Regions from separate parts of the Homo sapiens genome. Here region 1 is linked to region 2. The links come from fine-mapping of genetic effects on gene expression. A gene starts in region 2. The other region holds a variant in brackets. All regions are shown on one strand. Distances are between the middles of the regions.

Region 1 (10,485 bases), 82 kb before region 2:
CACCACTGCACTCTAGCCTGGGCGACAGAGTGAGACTCTGTCTCAAAAAATAAATAAAAATAAAAAATAAGTTTCACATTTAGAAAAAAATGATAATTATATACGTTATATTATCTCAACAATCTAAATTTACTCCACCATTGACCTATGCTGTTATTTAGCTCAAGCTGCTCAGAGAGAATTAGTTCTGCATTTGAAAGAGGTAAAGGGGTTGGGTGCTGTGACATTGGAATAAGAACATGAGAAACAATATAGAATTGAAGATTTAAAAAAAATTTTCTTTTTGAGATGGAGCGTTGCTCTGTCACCCAGACTGGAGTGCAGTGGTGCAATCTCAGCTTACTGCAACCTCCACCTCCTGGGTTCAAGCGATTCTCTTGCCTCAGCCTCCCAAGTAGCTGGGATTACAGGCGCCTGCCACCATGCCCAGCTAATTTTTGTATTTTCTATAGAGACAAGGTTTCACCAGATTTTTAAAATATTTTTTATTTTGGTAAAATATATATAACATGAAATTTGCTATTTGTTTAACCATTTTTAAGTATACAGTTTGATGGTATTAAGTAGATCAATAATATGCGCCCATCGCCACTATCCACCTTCAAAATATTTTCGTGACCCCAAACAGAAACTCTGGAACCATTAACAATAACTTCCCATCCCCCTGTTCCCTCAACCTCTAATCTACTTTCTGTCTCTATGTTTGTTTATTCTAGAATTTCCTATCAGTGGAACGATATGATATTTGTTCTATTCTCTCGTTTCTTTCACTTAGCATGTTTTCAAGATTCATTCATGTAGCATGTATTGGAACTTCATTCTTTTCTTTGGCTGAATAATCCACTATATGTATATATCACACTTTATCATGTATTTGTTGATGGACATTGGGTTGTTTCCATCTTTTAGCTAGTATGAATAATGCTACAATGAATACTGATGTACAAGTATCTGTTGAGTCCCTGTTTCCATTCTTTTGGGTATAGGGGTGGAATTGCTGGGTCACATGGCTATAACTGCATTTTAACATAGTTAATTATATAAGTTTTTATGGACACAGTTATGAACCATAAGCAAGCTTTAAAAAATTACAGTTGGCCGGGCATGGTGGCTCACACCTGTAATGCCAGCACTTTGGGAGGCCAAGGACGGTGGATCACCTGAGGTCAGGAGTTTGAGACCAGCCTGACCAACATGGAGAAACCCATCTCTACTAAAAATACAAAATCAGCTGGGTGTGGTGGCGCATGCTTGTAATCCTAGCTGCTAGGGAGGCTGAGGCAGGAGAATCGCTTGAACCTGGGAGGCGGAGGTTTCAGTTAGCTGAGATCGTGCCATTGCACTCCAGCCTGGGCAACAAGGGTGAAACTCCGTCTCAAAAAAAAAAAAAAAAAATTATAGTTAACATTACATACAGTTTAGAAGAGAAAAAGTTTCCATCTATAATTCTGTAGTAAAATTTGTACATAGTTGGGTGCGGTGGCTCAACGCCTGTAATCCCAGCACTTTGGGAGGCCGAGGTGGGTGGATCACCTGAGGTTGGGAGTTCAAGACCAGCCTGACCAACACAGAGAAACCCCATCTCTAATAAAAATACAAAATTAGCCGGGCACAGCAGCTCACGCCTGTACTTCCAGCACTATGGGAGGCCAAGGTAAGTGGATCACCTGACGTCAGGAGCTCGAGAGCAGCCTGGCCAACATGGTGAAACCCCACCTCTACTAAAAATATAAAAAATTAGCCAGGTGTGGTAGTGATGCATACCTATAATCTCAGCTACTCAGGAGGCTGAGGCTGGAGAATCGCTTGAACCCAGGAGGCGGAAGTTGCAGTGAGTGGAGATCGCGCCACTGCACTCCAGCCTGGGCGACAAGAGTGAAACTCCGTCTCCAAAAAAAAAAAAATTAGCTGGGCATGGTGGCGCATGCCTGTAATCCCAGTAACTTGGGAGGCTGAGGCAGGAGAATAGCTTGAACCCGGTAGGCGGAGGGTGTGGTGAGCCGAGATCACGCCATTGCCCTCCAGCCTGGGCAACAAGAGCAAAACTCCGTCTCAAAAAAACGAACAAAAAAAATTTGTACATAGTATCTTTTAGTTTTTTCCATATCTATCTGTATTTAATAGTTTTATTCATAAAGCATATTTTACATTCAGTTTTTGAGTTTTCATATAGGATTTTAATTTAAGTAGTCCTCCTCAAATACTCCCCCAAACTAAAGACACAAACTATGTTGTCTCGACTGAGTGATGGGATTGAGTGATTTCTCCCTCTATTTACCAATTTTTTTTGTAATGTTGTCATATTACTGTTATAACTTAAAAATAAAATTTAAAGAGCTTATTTGACCACTTAGGTGTAAACATTTCACAAGAGTAAGTATAATTTTAAACATTTTTTTGATTACCTGAATAAAGTCTTCAGTGACGAAATACTATATATGGTGAATAGTAACATGAGTAAGATTTTAATGGGAAGTTCTGTTAAAAGAATAGAAAAAAAAAGATAATTTAGCTGATGACAGAAAGACTTATGATGCTGAAAGTAATATAAGCACACTGACACAGCTATATAGTGCTAATAATACTTTTTAAGTTTAATTTTACATTTTTGTGACATCTAGAGATGCTGAGAATTACAGGAAATTGGAGGTTTTATTTAAGAGGATGAATGATCTCTATCCAAGAGATTTTAGAGTTGTTTAAATTAGATGTATTAATCTGTGGGCCTCGATGAAAAGGTTGTGATAGTCAAATATATTTTTCTCAGAAGACGCTGTTTACCTGGTGCAGTGAAGAGCAGAGGAAAGAGGGAATAATGTCCTGTTGTGGTCAGAATCAGAAAAATCGAAGCGTCTCCTGCTTTTCCCACAGACAAAAGGCTAAAAATAAAAATAATTTCTTAAAACAACAACTGTTATTACACTTGCAAATAGCTTAAATAAACTGCATCTCCTATTACATTAGAACTGGCTGAGGCATAGAAGAACATGCTGATTTTGGCACAAGTTCAATTTAGTTGAGAATATTAATTTTTTAGTAGGAAATTTTAAGCAATCAATAGCATGTATCAAACTGAATCAGGGGTATCGTAAAAGAATCTTGCTTCTGGCCGGGGACAGTGGCTCATGCCTTTAATCCCAGCACTTTGGGAGGCCGAGGCGGGAGGATCACCTGAGGTCAGGAATTCAAGAGCAGCCTGGCCAACATGGTGAAACCCTGTCTCTGCTAAAAATACAAAAATTAGCTGGGCATGGTGGCGGGTGCTTGTAATCCCAGCTACTCAGGAGGCTGAGGCAGGAGAATTGCTTGAACCTGGGAGGCAGAGGATGCAGTGAGCCGAGATCGCGCCACTGCACTCCAGCCTGGGCAACAGAGCGAGACTCTGTCTCAAAAAAAAAAAAAAAAGAATCTTGCTTCCCTGAGTAATTGCCTTCTCCAAAGACAGGAATGTTGTGGGATTGGGAGCTGCCTAGTGGTGGCAGTCAGGGAAACAGGACTTGGAGTTTCATTTCCAACCCTATAGCTCATCTCTTGGACAATGCCCTTCACCTGCTGGTGTTTGGTGTGAATTCAGACTAAAGACATTAAAAGTTTTTGCTTTACTTTTTAATTTGGAAACTCCAAGCTGCTAAATAAACCCAGACAAGCCACATACTGGCCTGACAAATTTGCTTAATATATGTTCAGAGCTTAAATGATTTCTCAAGATTCAAGAAAAATATAAAGAAAGAGGCTATTATTACCATTTATTTATCTATTGGGTTTCAACTATGCCTAAACTGGACACTTACATTTAAAATGGTTTTTTTAGCATGGCATAGTGAAAAGATCATAGATTCAACATCATAAGATTCAGGTCCTAACTCTAATTCTTGCGACCTGTATGACTTTGGACAAGTCACAAACATTTTGAGCCCTAGATTCTTCAGATGTTAAGACAGGGAATAAGCCTGTTTTGTTGGCTCACATCTGCAATCCCAGCACTTTGGGAGGCTGAGGTAGGAAGACTGCTTGTGCCCAGTAGTTTGAGACCAGCCTAGGCAACATGGCAAGACCCTGTCTCTACCAAAAAGTAAAAAAAAAAAAAAGAAAGGAAAAAAAAGGGAATAATACCCATTTATTTTAACTATCTTTTTTTTTTTTCTTTTTTTGAGACAGGGTCTCACTCTATTGCCCCAGGCTGGAGTGCAGTGGCGCCATCTTGGCTCACTGCAACCTTCACCTCCCAGGTTCAAAGGATCTTCATGCCTCAGCCTCCCAAGTAGCTGGGATTACAGGCATGCACCACCATGCCTGGCTAATTTTTGTATTTTTAGTAGAGATGGGATTTTGCCATGTTGGCCAGGCTGATCTCAAACTCCTGGCATCAAGTGAACCACCGCTTCAGCCTCCGAAAGTACTGGGATTGCAGATGTGAGCCACCATGCCTGGCCAATTATCTTAAAGATTATTGTGAGGCGCAAAAGAAAGAATGCAAAACAAAAACAGTTCTGGAAAATCTGAAATGTAGTACAGTATCAGGTATTATTCCAGAATAGACTAAATCCTTACTTTGACTAACAACACTTAACAAGGAACCATGGGACCTTATTTTCAGACGGGATGACACCAAAGCCCAAGTTTTTTCTTTTTTTCATTTTTGAGACAGAGTCTCCTTCGGTCACCCAGAATGGAATGCAGTGGTGCGATCTCGGCTCACTGCAACCTCTTCCTCCCGGGTTCAAGCAATTCTCCTGCCTCAGCCTCCCGAGTAGCTGGGACTACAGGCATGTGCCACTATGCCCAGCTAATTTTTTGTATTTTTAGTAGAGATGGGGTTTCACCATGTTAGCCAGGATAGTCTCGATCTCCTGACCTCGTGATCTGCCCGCCTTGGCCTCCCTAAGTGCTGGGATTACAGGCGTGAGCTACCGCGCCCGGCCAGCCCAGGTTTTTTCTATAACATACTGTCCCTCAATGATCAGATCTAAAAGCCGGCTTTCATGGTACTTAATCACTACAGTGCTTCTTTCCAAAAACGCAGAAACAGAAATAGTACATGCATTTTTGCATACCTTCATGGGTCCAAGAATCTCAAGTTAAGCATCCCTGTCCTGTCCTAGTGGACATCTGTTCCTATACATCTTTGTTTTTGCCTATCCTGGTGAACATGACAAGAAGGGACAGAGCAAATAGAAAATAGGATCATTGTGAAATATGCCAAAATGCTCACTGGCTGAGCTATCTGCTTACCTCATTGGGAGAATTGCTAGAAGTATGGCTTTTTCATGAACATGCCACCCAAACATAAAGGAGCTCAAGGCACAAAGAGTTAGACATCGGAGAAAGCCTCTGGGCCCTTGGGGTTTAAACCAAAGACAGAAAATAGAGGGCTAGAAACAACAGGCAAAGATAAACTTCAGTATCATTTGAAACAGACTTTACAGAAACAGAGTTCAGGTGAATACAATTTGCATCATCTCTGAAAGACAGCCAATCTTAGACAATTCTTCATGAAACCGAATCATTCATCACTTTGTGCACAGTCTAACAAAAGTTAACATAAAAGCAACAACTCAGAAAAAATTGGCATTTGATGTGTATATATATATTTTTATATGTAAATAAATATATTTTATATGTAAATATATATATATATATATATATATAATTTTTTGTTTTTTTGAGACGGAGTCTCGCTTTGTTGCCAAGGCTGGAGTGCAGTGGTGCGATCTCGGCTCACTGCAACCTCCACCTCCTGGGTTCAAGCGATTTTCCTG[C/T]CTCAACCTCCCAAGTAGCTGGGATTACAGGTGCCTGCCACCACGCCCAGCTAATTTTTGTATTTTTAATAGAGACGGGGTTTCACCATGTTGGCCAGGCTGGTCTCAAAATCCTGACCTCGTGATCTGCCTGCCTTGGCCTCCCAAAGTGCTGGGATTACAGGTTTGAGCCACCGCACCTAGCCTTGATGTATATATTTAACTCATTAAAATTAATTCTACTGGCTGGGCATGGTGGCTCATGCCTATAATCCCAGCACTTTGGGAGGCCAAGGCAGGCAGATCACTTGAGGTTAGGAGTTCAAGAACAGCCTGACCAACATAGTGAAACCCCATCTCTACTAAAAATACAAAAAAAACTAGCTGGGCGTGGTGGTACATACCTGTATTCCCAGGTACTCTGGAGGCTGAGGCAGGAGAATCGCTTGAACCTGGGAGGCAGAGGTTGCAGTGAGCTGAAATTGCGCCACTGCACTCCAGCCTAGGTGACAGACCGAGACTGTCTCAAAAAAAAAAAAAAAAAAAAAAATTGGCCGGGCCTAGTGACTCACGCCTGTAATCCCAGAACTTTGGGAGGCTGATGCAAGTCGATTACGAGGTCAGGAGTTCAAGACCAGCCTGGCCAAGATGGTGAAACCCTGTCTCTACTAAAAACTACAAAAAAGGCCGGGTGTGGTGGCTCAGGCCTATAATCCCAGCACTTTGGGAGGCCGAGGTGGGCGGATCACGAGGTCAGGAGATCGAGACCATCCTGGACAACATGGTGAAACCCTGTCTCTACTAAAATACAAAAAAAATTAGCCGGGCGTGGTGGTGCATGCCTGTAGTTCCAGCTACTCAGGAGGCTGAAGCAGGGGAATCGCTTGAACCCAGGAGGTGGGGGTTGCAGTGAGCTGAGATCGTACCACTACACTCCAGCCTGGCAACAGAACAAGACTCCCGTCTCAAAAAACAAAAACAAAAACAAAAACAAAACTACTGCAAAACAATTAGCTGGGTGCAGTGGCAGGCGCCTGTAATCCCAGCTACTTGGGAGGCTGAGGCAGGAGAATCGCCACTGCACTCCAGCCTGGATGACGGAGTGAGACTCTGTCTCAAAAAAAAAAGAAATTAATTATACTATCAAAATTAATAATTAAGTTCTGGGATGTACAGTCTAACAACTTATTACATCTTCATAATTAGTTTACTAATAGTTCATTTATTAATGAACCTAATAGGTCAAACTACAGAAGTCCATAGATGCTTTTGAGCCAATAAATTAGATTTACCATATTAATAAATACTTAGTTTTATTGGCTGGAAGGCCATAGAAACTATATGTACCTCATAAGGCTGAAATTTTAGGAAAAATGTTTTACCTCAATTAAAATATGTGAACAAACAGCCCAACAGAGCTTAATTATCTACATACCTGTACTGTCATGTAATTAAGTGGAATCAGGTGGTTGCTAGCAGGTTTGAAACATTCAGAAACCAAAATTAAAGATGAGTGTAATTATCGATAGGATTGAGTTGTTTATATTGAATTCTACTAAAATTATACCATGAAATTGAGGTCACTGCAATCACTAATGAAATTTTAGAAATTAAAGTTTCTAAAGTACTTAGAATGAGGCCTCTAAGAGCATCTTACTCATATTAGGCTCATCTTAGGCTCAAAAAGCCTTTGTCGACTCTCTCAACTCATTATCACCATCAAGACAAAACATCCACGCTGTCCAGATACATTTGGAATTTTGATGATTTAGCTAACGGTGAGAAAAACAAACCAAATCTGGATGTCCCTGCCACAAACATTTCCTTCTTTCTCTGCAGCATGATCCATGCCTCTTCCTCTCTGGGCTTTTCTTTTTCCCTTCCCCCGGGTGAACAGATGGTCTAACAGCCACTGGCAAGAATCTCTCACAAAGGCTTTACTGGTAATCCTTCCTTATGGTATTCAAAGTTACTCTAAGAATTGCTAGGAAATGCTTCAATCTGCAGAAGGATTACAGGCATGAAATTTATCCTACAGTTGGAAGAGCTTGAAAGTTGAAATTTAATCAGCCAGACAAAAGAAAAGCAGAGAAAACTCAAGAAATGAGCACCATCTGTTGAGTTCTTACCAATATGGCAATCAGTGTGCAGATGAGGGTTGCCAAGGGAGTCACTGAGGGAAGGACTGTGTGTTGGAACTGCTGAACCAAACCACTTGTCATTGAGGCCTTGGGAATATTGTTGGGATCAAGAAATTTCAATTTCAAACCTATTAAACAGATATTTTGTTTTGTTTTATTTTTATCTTTATTACTGAGATACCATATATTAACAATCAATTCCTTGAGGAATAAAAAGTAAGCTACTAAATCTTATTGCTGCTTAAAGGCTAAGATTTCATGAATTTAATCCTATACTATTCTACCCAAAATGCCTCTGGTCTTAAGATTATAATATATAAAGCAGCTCTTTGCATTGGAACAGGGAATTTGTGCAGCTTATAGGAAACTTGCTGGCAGGCAGCACAAATGGTAATCTGCTCTCACCTCTGAAAGCAAGCTTCTAGAACAGTCTGAGCATGTCATGAAGGAACTTTGAATCCTTCATCTCCTATGGGAGAAACCCTCTATTCCTAAACATAGTATCCAGTGTCTTCCATGATCTCATCGCCCCTTCCCCCCTGTTCAATCTCATCTTTACTTTGTTAAATGCGGCTTGGCCACAATGAAGTAACTGTGAGTCCTCAATATACCACTCTCAACACCTGTGTCCCTCTGCCCAGGCAACTCCCTTTGCCAAATTAACTTCTAATTCAATCACCTGAGAAAGCTCCTAAATCAATAAGCAGAACTGATTTTCTTGTGAGCTCACTTTTTTTTTTTGAGATGGAGTCTTACTCTGTCACCCAGAGACAGAGGCTGGAATGCAGTGGCGCAATCTCAGCTCACTGCAGCCTCTGCCTCCCAGGTTCCAGGTTCCAGCGATTCTCCTGCCTCAGCCTCCCCATTAACTGGGATTACAGGCATGTGCCACCATGCCCGGCTAATTTTTGTATTTTTAGTAGAGACGGGGTGTCACCATGTTGGCCAGGCTGGTCTCGAGCTCCTGACTTCAGGTGATCCGCCCATCTCAGCCTCCCAAAGTGCTAGGATTACAGGCCTGAGCCAACGTGCACAGCTGAGTGAGCTCACTCTAACAGTGTTCACCACAAGGCACTGCACTTGTTTATGTGCTCATTTCCTCTACTATACTGTATTCCTTGAAGGCAGGAATGATGATGAGTTCATTTCTATCCCCAGTACATAGGAGCTCAATAAATACTTGGTTATTAAATAAATCAATTCAGAGAATGACAATACAAGCCCCAACAAGCTCTGGCTAATAGGACAGTCAGAGACAGTTTGAGCACCTATAGGGCCTGTCAAATGCCAGTGAAAATGAATACAATGTGGGAAAGATGTACCAAAATATTTTCTACTTACTAACCTCTTCCCCTTTCCCCTTTGGCCTGCTGATTCTCTCTTACAGCTAATAACTATCTCCCTAAAACAAAGTTGTCTAACTCTGACACTGACTTTCCATGTAAAACATCTTCAAAGACACAAACATACAAGTGAGGGTACAGTACAGCTTCCTGACTCAGACAAGGCAACTGGCCCTTGTACCTCATACTATGCTGGCTGTTTAAAGCTTTTTTTGAAATATGAATGTTAGGAATTACTCTGTAAGAATGCCATGTACATCAAGGCTAGATTCACAGTGAGCAACACGGTGACACAATGTATAAGTCATCACATAGGCAGTGTATGATCTCCTCCAAGTACTTATCAAAAACAGTAATAGTGGCCACCATGCATGGAGCGTCTACCATGTGCCCAGGGCTCTGCACTTACTACTTTTAGCCCCCTGAGGTACAGAGATGGAGTAACCTGCCCAAAGTCACACAACTAATAGGTGGTAAAACTGAACTCAGGTTTGTCTGGCTCCAAAGTCTCTGCTACTGATAACCTAGTACTTTTTAAATTTTGCTTCTGTTCCTCACAACACACTGTATAGGTACAGGTAAAGTACTAGTATGTCTTTCGTATAGTGAGGAAAGTTAGACGAAAGGAAGCAAATGACTTGTCAATGCCACACACTGCAATAGCAATTTACACAGGTGAGCCTCCAAACCAAGTCATCAGACTCTAGGTCTGGAGTCCACAAACTATAGGCCAACAGCCAAATGTAGCCTGTGCCCAGTTTTTGCACAGCACTGAAGTATGAATGGTTTTTACTTTTATAAGGTTTTAAACAAATGTGTGCATACACAAATACAGACACAGACACACATACACACACACACACTGTGTGTGGCCTGCATAGCTTAAAATATTATCTGGCCAGTTACAGAAAAAGTTTGCTGACCACCACTCTTGATCATGCCATTTTCCCACCAAGCTAGATTGTATTCACAAATGAGAGACTGTGTTATCCAGAGTGAGTTATTTTTAGTAGAACCATCTCAAACCATAACTTATTTTTCATTACGACCCAATTTTAAAAACCATAGCCTGGGTTTTTCATTTCTTCTCACCTCATGTTAAAATGCAGGGTTATTTTCCTTACTGGTTTAATACCGAGAGTCACAACTTACATATTCTTCTTTCTTGTATGTTTAGGTTTAAAAGTGGGGTAGGCCAGGCATGGTGGCTTGTGCTGGTAATCCCAGCACTTTGGGAAGCCAAGGTGGGAGGATCATTTGAGA
Region 2 (11,154 bases):
TGCAATTTCCTTTTTTCCTACATTACTGTCCACTTCCATAATGAGCATTACTTCCATAATGAAATGACTTACCATGCAATCCTGTCAGTGGGGACTAGCTGTTGTAACAATAAATGTACTGAGTAATGAAAATTGTCCATCTATCATCTATCTATCAATCACCTATCCATCATTTCCTAGCTCTGCTCACTCACAGAGCCTAGAAATGACACCCAGTAGCAATAAACACACCTAGCCCTGGATCTTTGTTTCTGAATGTCATCATCTCTTCTAAAAGAAACCAGGGCTTCCTGGAGAAACTGATGATTCCTGGACTTTCACAGGAAAAGTTCAAGGTGAGTTCATATAGCCCAGTGAATTAAAAAACAACAACAACAAAACAAGAGTCCAGGCTGGGTGCGGTAGTTCATGCCTGTAATCTCAGCACTTTGGGAGGCCGAGGCGGGCGGATCACCTGAGGTCTGGAGTTCAAGACCAGCCTGGCTAACATGGCAAAACCCCATCTCTACTAAAAATACAAAAAATAGCTGGGCGGGGTGGCGTGCGCCTGTTATTCCAGCTACTTGGGAGGCTGAGGCAGGAGAATCGCTTGAATCTGGGAAGTGGAGGTTGCAGTGAGCCAAGATCGTGCCACTGCACACCAGCCAGGGCAACAGAGTGAGACTCCATCTCAAAAACAAACAAACAAAAAACAAGAGTCCATAATGTTATTCCCAAAAGAAAAAAGAGGGTGAGAAGAAGGGAGTGAGAAAGATAGAGACAGGAAAAATTAATTCTTTTTTTTTTTTTTTGAGACGGAGTCTCACTGTCGCCCAGGCTGGAGTGCAGTGGTGTGATTTCGGCTCACTGCAACCTCCGCCTCCCAGGGTTCACGCCATTCTCCTGCCTCAGCCTCCCGAGTAGCTGAGACTACAGGCGCCCGCCACCTCGCTCGGCTAATTTTTTGTATTTTTAGTGGAGACAGGGTTTCACCTTGTTAGCCAGGATGGTCTCGATCTCCTGACCTCGTGATCCGCCCGCCTCGGCCTCCCAAAGTGCTGGGATTACAGGCGTGAGCCACCGCACCCGGCCAGGAAAAATTAATTCTATAAAAAAGAACACTAATAAACACAGAAGGAATGGCAGAATTAGAAAATTACCAATTTGCAACCCTCAGTGTTGTAATTCAAGCAAGGATCATCCAAGGATGTGGTGTGAAAGGTTATCAGGAACACATAATTATAACAGACTCAGAGAATCACTTCACAGATTACTTATTAATTGTAAGAGAGAAAAATTTACCTTTACGATAGAGAGATCAGGTTGCCATGACCTTAATAATCAAATTTAGCATTCATGGATAGTAAGACCCTGACATCATATCCTCCTGACATGCAGTAAGTACACACATTGCCAAAAACTTAAATCTAACCCCAATCTAATCATTGATAAACCAATCAAACATATTTAAATAGGTGGAGAAGCTCTATTTATTTATTTATTTATTTATTTGAGATAGAGTCACACTCTGTTGCCCAGGCTGGAGTGCAGTGGCACAATCTCGGCTCACTGCAACCTCCACCTCCTGAGTTCAAGCAATTCTCTTGCCTCAGCCTCCTGAGTAGCTGGGAGTATAGGCACACACCACCATGTCCGGCTAATTTTTGTATTTTTACTTGAGATGGGGTATCACCATGTTGGCCAGGCTGGTCTCGAACTCCTGACCTCAAGTGATCTGCCCACCTCAGCCTCCCAAAATGTTGGGATTACAGACATGAGCTACCATGCCAAGGGGCTCTATTTAGATTAAATGAGTTGATAAAAGAGATATAATAGGATGCAATATGTACATCTTGACTGGATCTGATTTTAAAAACCAGAAACTATATAAGGTATTTTTGGGCAATTAGAATTTTTTTTTTCTTGAGACAGGGTCTCACTCTGTCGCCCAGGCTGGAGTGCAGTGGCGCGATCATGGTTCACTGCAGCCTTGACATCCCCAGGCTCAGGTGATTTTCCCAAGTAGCTGGGACTACAGGTGCACGCTACCACACCATGCTAAATTTTGTAGTTTTTGTAGAGATGGGGTTTCACTATGTTGCCCAGGCTGGCCTTGAACTCCTGGGCTCAAGCAATCTGTCTGCCTTTGCTTCCCAAAGTGCTGGGGTTATAGACATGACCCATTGCACCTGGCAGAAAATTTTGAATAACTATTACATTGGGTAATACTGACTTCTTGCTTATTACATATAATGTATTATGGCTATGTAGTAGAACGCCCTTATTAGGGGATACATGTTGAAGAATTTAGGGGTCAAACGTCAATCAACATATCTGTAACTTACTTTTAAATAATTGGGCCAAAAAAGTGTGTGTTTGTGTAAAAGCACAATTGGCAAATTGTGATTTGGCGTATCTAGGTTAAGGGTTGTACTTTAAGCTTTTATGTAAGCTTGAAAATTTTAAAAATATTTGTATTTTAAAAGAGGGGGGAAGAACACTTCTTCATAGGGCCAATAGATGTAAAGTTACAGTCATTGTGCCAGACCCCAATAAGTCGCCAGATTTAGTAAGTTACAGATTTACTACTACTACTTAGAAGTGTGAAAAGCTCATAATTTTCCTTCCCAAGTGTTTCTGAATTTTGAAGGGTGAGGATGCCAACCAGGGCTAAGTGGTGGAGGAGTTAGAATCTAAGCCTGGGTGGGCAGTCTGGATAGAGCCACCACCCACAGAAACCACACCACTAGGCCTATTTTTTTTTTTTGAGATAGAGTCTCGCTCTGTCACCCAGTTTGGAGTGCAGTGGCGTGATCCTGGCTCACTGCGACCTCTGCCTCCCAGGTTCAAGTGATTCTCCTGCCTCAGCCTCCTGAGTAGCTGGGATTTCAGGTGCGTGCCACCATGCCCGGCTAATTTTTGTATTTTTAGTAGAGACGGGGTTTCACCACGTTGGCCAGGCTGGTCTCAAGCTCCTGACCTCAAATGATCCACCCACCTCAGCCTCCCAAAGTGCTGGGATTACAGGCGTGAGCCACCGCGCCCGGCCAGGTCTGCCTATCTTCTGTGCTGTGATTCTGCCTGGAAGAAGATGGCTGTTCAGGCCTTGTTTTTCCTGCCTCATCATGAACCCAGAATCTCTGTAACTCGGCAGGAAAGAAACTCCTGTCATGACTCACTGTGAATGTTGACAAAGAGAGGCCACTCCTGGGCCTCAGAAATGTCAAGGATGGGCAGAAAGAACTGGAGACAGGCCAGGCTCAGTGGCTCATGCCTGTAATCCCAGCACTTGGAAGGCCCAGGTGGGAGGATCGCTTGAGTTCAGGAGTTTGAGACCACCTGGACAACATAATGAGACCTCGTTTCTATAGAGAAAAAAAAAAATTAGCTGGGCATGGTAACACGTGCTTGCAGTCCCAGCTGCACAGGCTGAGGTAGGAGGATCGCTTGAGCCTGGGAGGTCAGGCTGCAGCAAGCCGAGATCACGCCACTGCACTCCAGCTTGGGCAACAGAGTAAGACCCTGTCTCAAAAAAAAAAAAAAAAAAAAAAAAAAAAAAAAAAAAGAAAAGAACTGGAGAGGCTGTGTGGGGTAGGGGCAGACCATGCATGGTATTCGGCATTACCTGGGTTTGCATTTGAATCATCCCCTGCCACTTACTAGCTGTGCAGCCCTGGGCACGTTCCTGGGCAGATGATGATGATCATAACAACAACAAACACTACAACGGCAATAATAATGGCTAACGTTTATTGAGCAGTTACTACCGTGCTAGGCACTCTATACATGTTAATCTCTTTCAATCTCACAGATTAAGTAGATACTATTATATACCTACTTTACAGACCAACCATACTGGGCCCTCTTCGACTTCTGCAATTTGGCATCTGCCATCCCCTCTGCCTGGACCTTGAAGACAAATCCCATGCATCGGCCAGGTCTCTCAGCTGGAATTCATTCCTTCTCCTCTGCATCTGCGGAGAATTTTAGTCTAACCCCTTACCACAGCCAACTTTACTTAAGTAGATGGATGCCTGGCTCCCTTGCTGGGGCTGGGGGTGCCCCTTTCTATATCCACAGAAGCACGTAGAATAGGGGAAGAGGAAGAAATTTCTCTCCTGTTTAGTCAGATCCATTTTCCCCACCTGGATTTTCAAAACTTTTTAATTTTGAAATGCTCTGTTCAATTTTCAATCTGGAATCTAAAGGGATGTGACAAGGCCGAGGTGATTACTTGGGAGTAAATGCAAGGAGAGTTTCCACTGCGTAAGGGAATGGACAGCACGTGGCTGGGTAAATTTCAAAAAAGACAATGCTCAGAGTGAGTACTGTGTTTTCCAGTAAGTGGGAGACTTCCCCACCTTACCCCACCGGAGAAAGGACTCTTTGCCTTGAAGCCCCTAGGACGACTACCCTTTCTTCACCTCCTCTTCCTGACCACCCCACATCAAAGAGCTGCGTCTATAATTCTGTCTTGCCCAGTCCATATCTCTAAGAAATCCGAAGGCTGCTCTATTACCATCACAACCCATAGGGAGGAGAGAAAAGGTGCTTCCTAGACACAGGGACCCCAGAATGAGCTGCGCAAAAGGCAGGAGGAGAGAAAGGTGGGCTGGAAGAAGGAGACCACGGAATCTGGCACGGCAAGGTATTCTTTCATCTGGCGTAGACCTCCAACAACCACTACCATCCCCCAGCCCCTTCCAGAACTTTCCTTCACCTTCTCGGCTCACTCTCACGCTTCACCTTGTGCTTTTCCTCCGGCACCAGCACCCCATTTCAAACCGCTCTCTTCCTATGTCTCCTCCAAACAGTAATTTATAAACACCGTGCTTTCAAATCCATCTCATTTCATCCTCACAGTACTATAGGAGGGCTGCCTTACAGGCTGTCATTCGGAAGGGTTGGGGGGACTGGTCCTGCCAGACAATTTGCGAAGGTCGGGGCATCAAAACTTTTCTTTCCTGCCTCCCACGCCAAGCTAAACCTCTGCCTCCCCGAGTGCAGGGAGAAAAGCAAGGTCTTTGAAGTAAGGAGTCCTGAGTGGTTTTAGGCAAGTCCCTTCGCTTTTCTGAGCCTCACATTCCTCACCTGTCAACCGCTATAGTGACGCCTCTACTTTTCAGGGCGTGGGAGGTCAATGAGATCACTGGTGTGCCGCACTGAACTCGGGGATGGACTCTTTATTTCCAGTCAGTAAAGGGAGGTGTTCTATGCATCACAGGCTTTTGCCCACGCCGCCACAGCGCGGCCGGCCCAGGGCTCTCCAGAGCGGGGCAAGTTCCCTGTCATCTGTGTCTCCGCCCTTCCTTCCCCAATCTCACCCAGGCTGGCCTCATCGGCTTGTTCCGCACCCACTCCCCAGCCCTACAGCCCCCACTCCGACCTGACAAGTGCCCCACCCCCACCTAGAGATCCCGCCTCTCCTTGCCCCACCCACCAAGGACTCCTCCCACAGTCCCGACCCTCATTATCCGGGCTTTTCCGACTATCACCATCCGCCCTTGCTCTCCCAACAGCCCCGCCCCTCTAAGAGCTCTGCCCACTTCGGCTCACCTCGCTCCGAAACGCGCCCCCTCCCCCGCACCACAGGCGATGCCATCCCCATTTCACAGATGGGAATGGCGAGGCTGGGATAGATTAGTCTCATGGTAAGACAGGTGCTCAGTGGGCCCACGTACCCTCGCCGGTAGTCCCCGAGCCCCGCGACCCCGGCCGTGCCGCACCCACCTCCTGCCCTCGCTCTGCAGCCTCTCCCTCCGCGAGCGGCCAGCGCAGCTTTGCGAGGGGGGCGGAGGGTAGGAGCCCAGCCCAGGGGCGTGGCGGTCCGGGGTCTGTGCGCTGCCTTCCGGGACTGGTAGTTCTCTCTGGGCTCCTCGCAGCTCGGCGCGTCGAGAGCGAACTCCATCTCCCAGGAGGCATTGCAGCGAGTTGCTCTGCGCCCCGCCTCGTCCCCGCCGGTGTCCGGCCGGCTGGCCTTAAAGGGGACGCGGTCAGAGTGGCAGCTCGCGGGGTGGCCCCCGCTCCGGCTCCGCCCCATTTCACGCACCTCGCCCCTCCCCATGCTTCATCCCGCAGCCCCGGGGCCGCGCCGCAGAGTCGGGCTTCCTGGATACATAGAGGCTTGTGCCAGGCGGGGTGGGAAGACTGGATTTTGCAGTGGAAGCAGCATCTCTTCCGTCTGGGACCTGGCTGAGGGCGTCCCCACCCTGGGGGGAGCAGAGGACCAGCCCTGACCTAGCCGGGCCCAGCCTCGTCCTGCCCGGCCTGAGCGCCCCGCCCAGCAGCCGGCTCTGGCCCACCGGGGTCCGGGAGGTAAGGGGGTTGGGGGCGTGTGACTGTCTTTGGGGGGCGGTGTCTGCACCCTGGCCTTTCGAGAACCCTGGACTTGCGAGCCCAGGGCTGGGAGTCGGGAGATCTGGGTGCATCCTGGGCCTCCTGGGCCTCACTGTGTGACCTTGGGCGAGTAGCTATTCCTCTCTGGGCATTAATCCCCTCCCTTCATCAATTGTATGTCGAAGTGATCCTGCTCCCTCCCCTTTCAGGTAAGAGGGCATTCGCACCCAGTACCTAGTACATTCGCTTGCTGGCTTTTCGTGGGGCCCTCCAGCTCAAGCGTGGGCTGGGCGCGGGTGCACTGGAGGGAGGGAGGTGGCACAAACTGGGGGGCCCGAGGCCACCATTGCTTGGAATGGGCTTTTCCTATTCTCAGTGTGCTGGGCCCTGGGATACCCTCCCCAACCCCCTCTTACGGCCCTGGCCCTTGCAAACCGGAGACCCTGATGTGTCAGCTTGGTGCCCTTCCTTCCAGAAAGCTTGGGGTGGAGTGCGGCCCTCACAGGTTTGTGAGGGGTGGCCCCGCAGGGATAGGTGTGTGTGGTGGGTTCCTGAGGAGGAATAGCTGCTCCTGCTTTCTTCCCTTCTCTCTCCTCCTTATCCTTTGAGGAAGAGCAGCTGCTTTTTACCAGTGAAACCCTTTTTTCTTTTTCTTTCCAGGAGACAGTTTGGTGGCCCAGACATGGGCCTCCCGGAGTAGGGTGAAGCACTTCTTCCCAGGGTTGCCTTGGGTAGAAGTTCAGTTAAAAAATACCTAGAGAGATGCTGCCATTCAGACACCTGAGGGGCCAGAGATGGAGGGCACCACCTGGTGTCGGGAGGGGCAGCCTGGTACCCCCAAGGAAGCTCTGGCTCCCAGGGGAGTCAAAGGAGGGAGGCTGGCTTCGAGGGTCAGAGAGGGGAGGAAATGTGCTCCTCAGCTCTTAGGTGCTGAGCAGAGGCTGGGAGGGGCTGCTCTGACCTGGAGCAGGGAGAGGTTGAGTAACACCATGAAGCCTTCTTCTCAGGTCCTAGGAGATTCTGTGAGCTTTTGACCTGAAGGCTAACCAGGAACAGATTTTTGTTTTGTTTTGTTTTGTTTTTGTTTTGTGCTTTTTCTTTTGCTTTGGTTGTTTGAACAATTTCTAGAATGGCTAAAGCCTCAGTCCAGTCCAGTGACCTCTGTAGGGGCTTTCTTGACTGATGTTTAAGATTTTCAGGGTTTTTGATATGCAAGACCAGGCCTGGGCAAAGGAGGGGGTGGTGACTGGACCAAAGGTTAGGCCAGTTTCTGGAAGGTACTTTTGTGGTTACATCTTTGGTTTTCTCTCATCTTGCTGTCACATGTCTCTCATGAGTTGCTTGACGCACCTTCACGGACACCTCAGTCCTTGGTTCTGTACTGGGCACTGGGCTCAGAGACGGGGATTGGACCTCTGCCAAGGGAGGTCCCAGCCTGGTGGGAGACAGAGACATGGATTCCAGTTATGCTGCAGAGGGATGAGAATAGCTAAGAGGGCCTTGGAGGCCAGAACTTTAGACACTTGAATTGTGGAGGGAAAAGGAAAGGCTTCCCAGAGGAGAGGGCATGTGAGCTGGGCATTGAAGGGTGAGTCAGAATTTTCCAGGAGAGAAGAGGGAAAAGCCCTTTTTCAGTAGAGGGGACATTGTGCAAAGTAGCAGTCAGGAAAAAGCCCCCTGCTCCAATGTCTGCAGAGTCTCCACTGAACAATGTTGCTTGAGTTCATCTCCACCCCTGCCCCACATCAGCTGAGTGTCACAGAAAGGGCTTGCATGTCCGGCTCAGGAGTTTGGACCTTATTCTGGGTCCAAGGGGCTGGAGAGTGTTGAGAGTTCTGAGCAGGGGCATGGACGGAATGGTGCTTACCGTGTAATAAGCTCCATCTGACGATGCTGCATCTGGAGAGACCAAGGAGGGATGATGAAGCTTGAGCGGGGGCCCAGGGCGTGGCAGTGGGGCTGAGCATAGGAGTTGTGTACACACACATACACACACACACACAGGGTGCTTTGGGGTGATGGAGATAAGTCAGGCTCAACTGTGCAGGAGCAGAGATCAGTCAACACTCGGCAGAAATGTTGAGGGTCATCCGAGAGGAACAGGTGAAAGGATCTGGGCCTTTTGGCAGAGGGATTGGGATTTTCCTGAGTGCTCACTGCGTGCCTTGGAGTGTGCTGGTGTTGCTGGGACGCCCCTCAGGCTGTCATGCCAGTAGGGCGAGGGGTATGAGGCAAGGGCTTGGGAGGAGCAGCAGCGCTGGCTGGGAAAGGCTAAGGGGTGGGCACGTAGTCACCTTCTATTTGGGCATTCCGAGGATCACAGAGGTAAAAGAACACCTACCTCCATGGTGGCTGGGCTAGACTCGAAGCCTGGACTCTGTTCTCCTCTAGGACACATGCCTCTGTTGGAGGATGGATTGAGGGAGGGAATTGGGAGATGGGTTAGGAGGCTACTGCACTAGTCCAGGCAAGAAGTCAAGGGGTCTGATCCTGGGTGGGGCTGGGAACACCGAAGTGGCAGGGAGGGCTAATGGAGGAAATGCCTTGGAGAATCAGCAGGATCAGCAGTGCGTGTCTCCTTGTCTCCTTTCCCTGACAGTATCTGTGTCTCCCATCAGTGCCAGGTGGCCCAAAAATAGACTCATGACAGCCCGGCCCTCATCTTTTTTTTTTTTTTTTTTTTGAGACGGAGTCTTGCTCTGTCCCCCAGGCTGGAGTGCAGTGGCATGATCTCGGCTCACTGCAAGCTCCGCCTCCTGGGTTCACGCCATTCTCCTGCCTCAGCCTCCTGAGTAGCTGGGACTACAGGTGCCCGCCACCACGCCCGGCTAATTTTTTGTATTTTTAGTAGAGATGGGGTTTCACCGTGTTAATGAGGACCTCATCTTTTTTATACCTTGTCTCAACCCTGTGAATGGTAGGCTTGGAATAGTCCCCATTTTCCAGATGAGAAGGCTAAGAAGCCAGGCAGGGGCTCACCCAAGGTCACCATGACTTTGAAGCAGAAAACCTGTATCTTCAGCTTTTAACACAGGCTCTCCTCGGGGAGGACATGGCTGCTGTTTGCTGCTGCGGTTGGTGCGGGGCAGCTGTCTCTTGAGTCAGAGCCAGCATGGACAGGCCATCTCCTCACCCGGGGCTTAGCAGGCTAATCCAGCCCTCCTGAGGGAGGCAGAGTGCAGGTTCTAATCCTGCTTTGCCAAGGCCATGTTCCTCTCTCTGAGCCTCACTTTCTTCATTCCTGCCAGTGGGATAGCTGGCCTTGTCCTCCCTTCCCTGGCCTGATGGGGCCAGGTGAGGTGCAAGCCTCTAAAACCCTTTTGTCTGAGTGCATGCAAGATATTGAGTGGGTTTGCTGGTGACCATGGTGACAGCTGTCCTCAGACTGCCTGCGTGGGAGTTGGGGCAGGTGGGCAGGGCTTGCTTGCTGTGGCCAGGCTACGGACTGAGCAGAGGCTGCCGGCTGGCCTTGGAGATCAGAGCTCTCATGGAGCAGCTCTATTTGAACTGTCAGCTGCCAGGCTTATGTGGTGTTAGGTAGAACAACATGAAATTGCCAACATTTGATCATTCGGTTTCATGCGGTTCAGTCTAATAGCATTTGTCCCCATTTTACAGAAAAGAGGCTCATGGGTATGATTTACTGAGGGTCACACAATGAGTCAGGGCTAGAATGTAGGACTCCTCATTCCTAGTCTGATACTCTTTCTACTCTTTCTAGTACTCTTTCTACTACCAGAGTCTTCCCTGTCTCCAGAACTCCATTTCTGCCTGCCCCCATGCCCTCTTGCTTCACACATGATGCCAGTGCCTCATGGATTAGGGTTTCTTCTTGGCTGCCTGAGTACCAGGATTTCTTGGCATCCTGGGTTGAAAGCATATGAAATCCACTAGCCATCCCAGGGGTCTGGGAGGATGGACTGTTTGTGTGGGGGAGGTTGGCCACAGCAACTGCCTTGTCACGGGCACTGCCTAGAAAGGGGACCAGGGCTGAAGGGAGAGTTAAAAAAATTTTTTTTCTTTTTTCTTTTTTGAAACAGGAACTCACTTAGTCACCCAGGCTGGAGTGCAGTGGCGTGATCTCAGCTCACTGCAACCTTCGCCTCCCAAGCTCAAGTGAGCCTCCTGTCTCAGCCCCAACTAGCTGGGACTGCAGGTGTGAGACACTACGCCTGGCTAATTGATGTAATTTTTTTTTTTTTTTTTTGTAGAGATGGGGTTTTGCCATGTTGCCCAGGCTGGTCTCAACCTCCTGAGCTCAAGCCATCTCCCCACCTCGGCCTCCCAGAGTGCTAAGATTACAGACATGAGCCACTGTGCCCAGCTGGGAGACCAGTTTTTAAAGACACTTTATAGGCCTTTTGAGATTATACCTTGCAGGGGCACCCTTACAAACATTTCTGCCTCCCCCATCTGACTGGAAGCTCCTTCAAGGCAAGGACTTTGCTTCTGAAGCAACAGGAGTTGACATTTTCTGAGAACTTCCTTGTGCCCAGCTCAGAGAGCCTAAGTAACCTTTATGGGAACCAGAATGTATCCCAGATGAGCCACATTCAAAGAGTCAAAAACAACAACAACAACAACAAAACCCAGAATCGAACACATCATTTCCCTCATTTCCTCATTCAGGAAGCTTCGGGTGGACCCTGAACTTTTTCTTTTCTTTTTTTGAGACAGGGTCTCACTCTATCACTTAGGCTGGAGTGCAGTGGCACGATCTTGCCTTACTTCACCCTTGACCTCCTGGGCTCGCCACCACCCTTGGCTGGTGTTGAACTCCTGGGCTCAAGTGATCTGCCTGCCTTGGCCTCCCAAAGTGTTGGGACTACAGGCGTGAGC

What was found. PIP is the estimated chance that this variant, and not a neighbour inherited with it, causes the effect.
Region 1: its variant is fine-mapped to the expression of USP35 in whole blood (TOPMed, PIP above 0.99).

Annotation. Positions count from the first base shown.
Region 1 is chr11:78,101,575-78,112,059 of GRCh38, forward strand. It overlaps ALG8 (ALG8 alpha-1,3-glucosyltransferase), which reads right to left. Exons shown (of 13, transcript NM_024079.5): 9 at 7,868-8,007; 10 at 5,233-5,372; 11 at 2,782-2,879; 12 at 2,406-2,478. Among named protein-coding and RNA genes, the nearest start is that of NDUFC2-KCTD14, 27 kb to the left of the region's middle. RefSeq lists a silencer at 3,329-3,623. The variant C/T (reference allele first, on the strand shown) is at 5,760.
Region 2 is chr11:78,182,864-78,194,017 of GRCh38, forward strand. USP35 (ubiquitin specific peptidase 35) reads left to right here and starts at 6,056. Exons shown (of 11, transcript NM_020798.4): 1 at 6,056-6,294. It overlaps KCTD21 (potassium channel tetramerization domain containing 21), which reads right to left and starts at 5,763. Exons shown (of 2, transcript NM_001029859.3): 1 at 5,710-5,763. RefSeq lists silencers at 5,480-5,819, 6,250-6,409.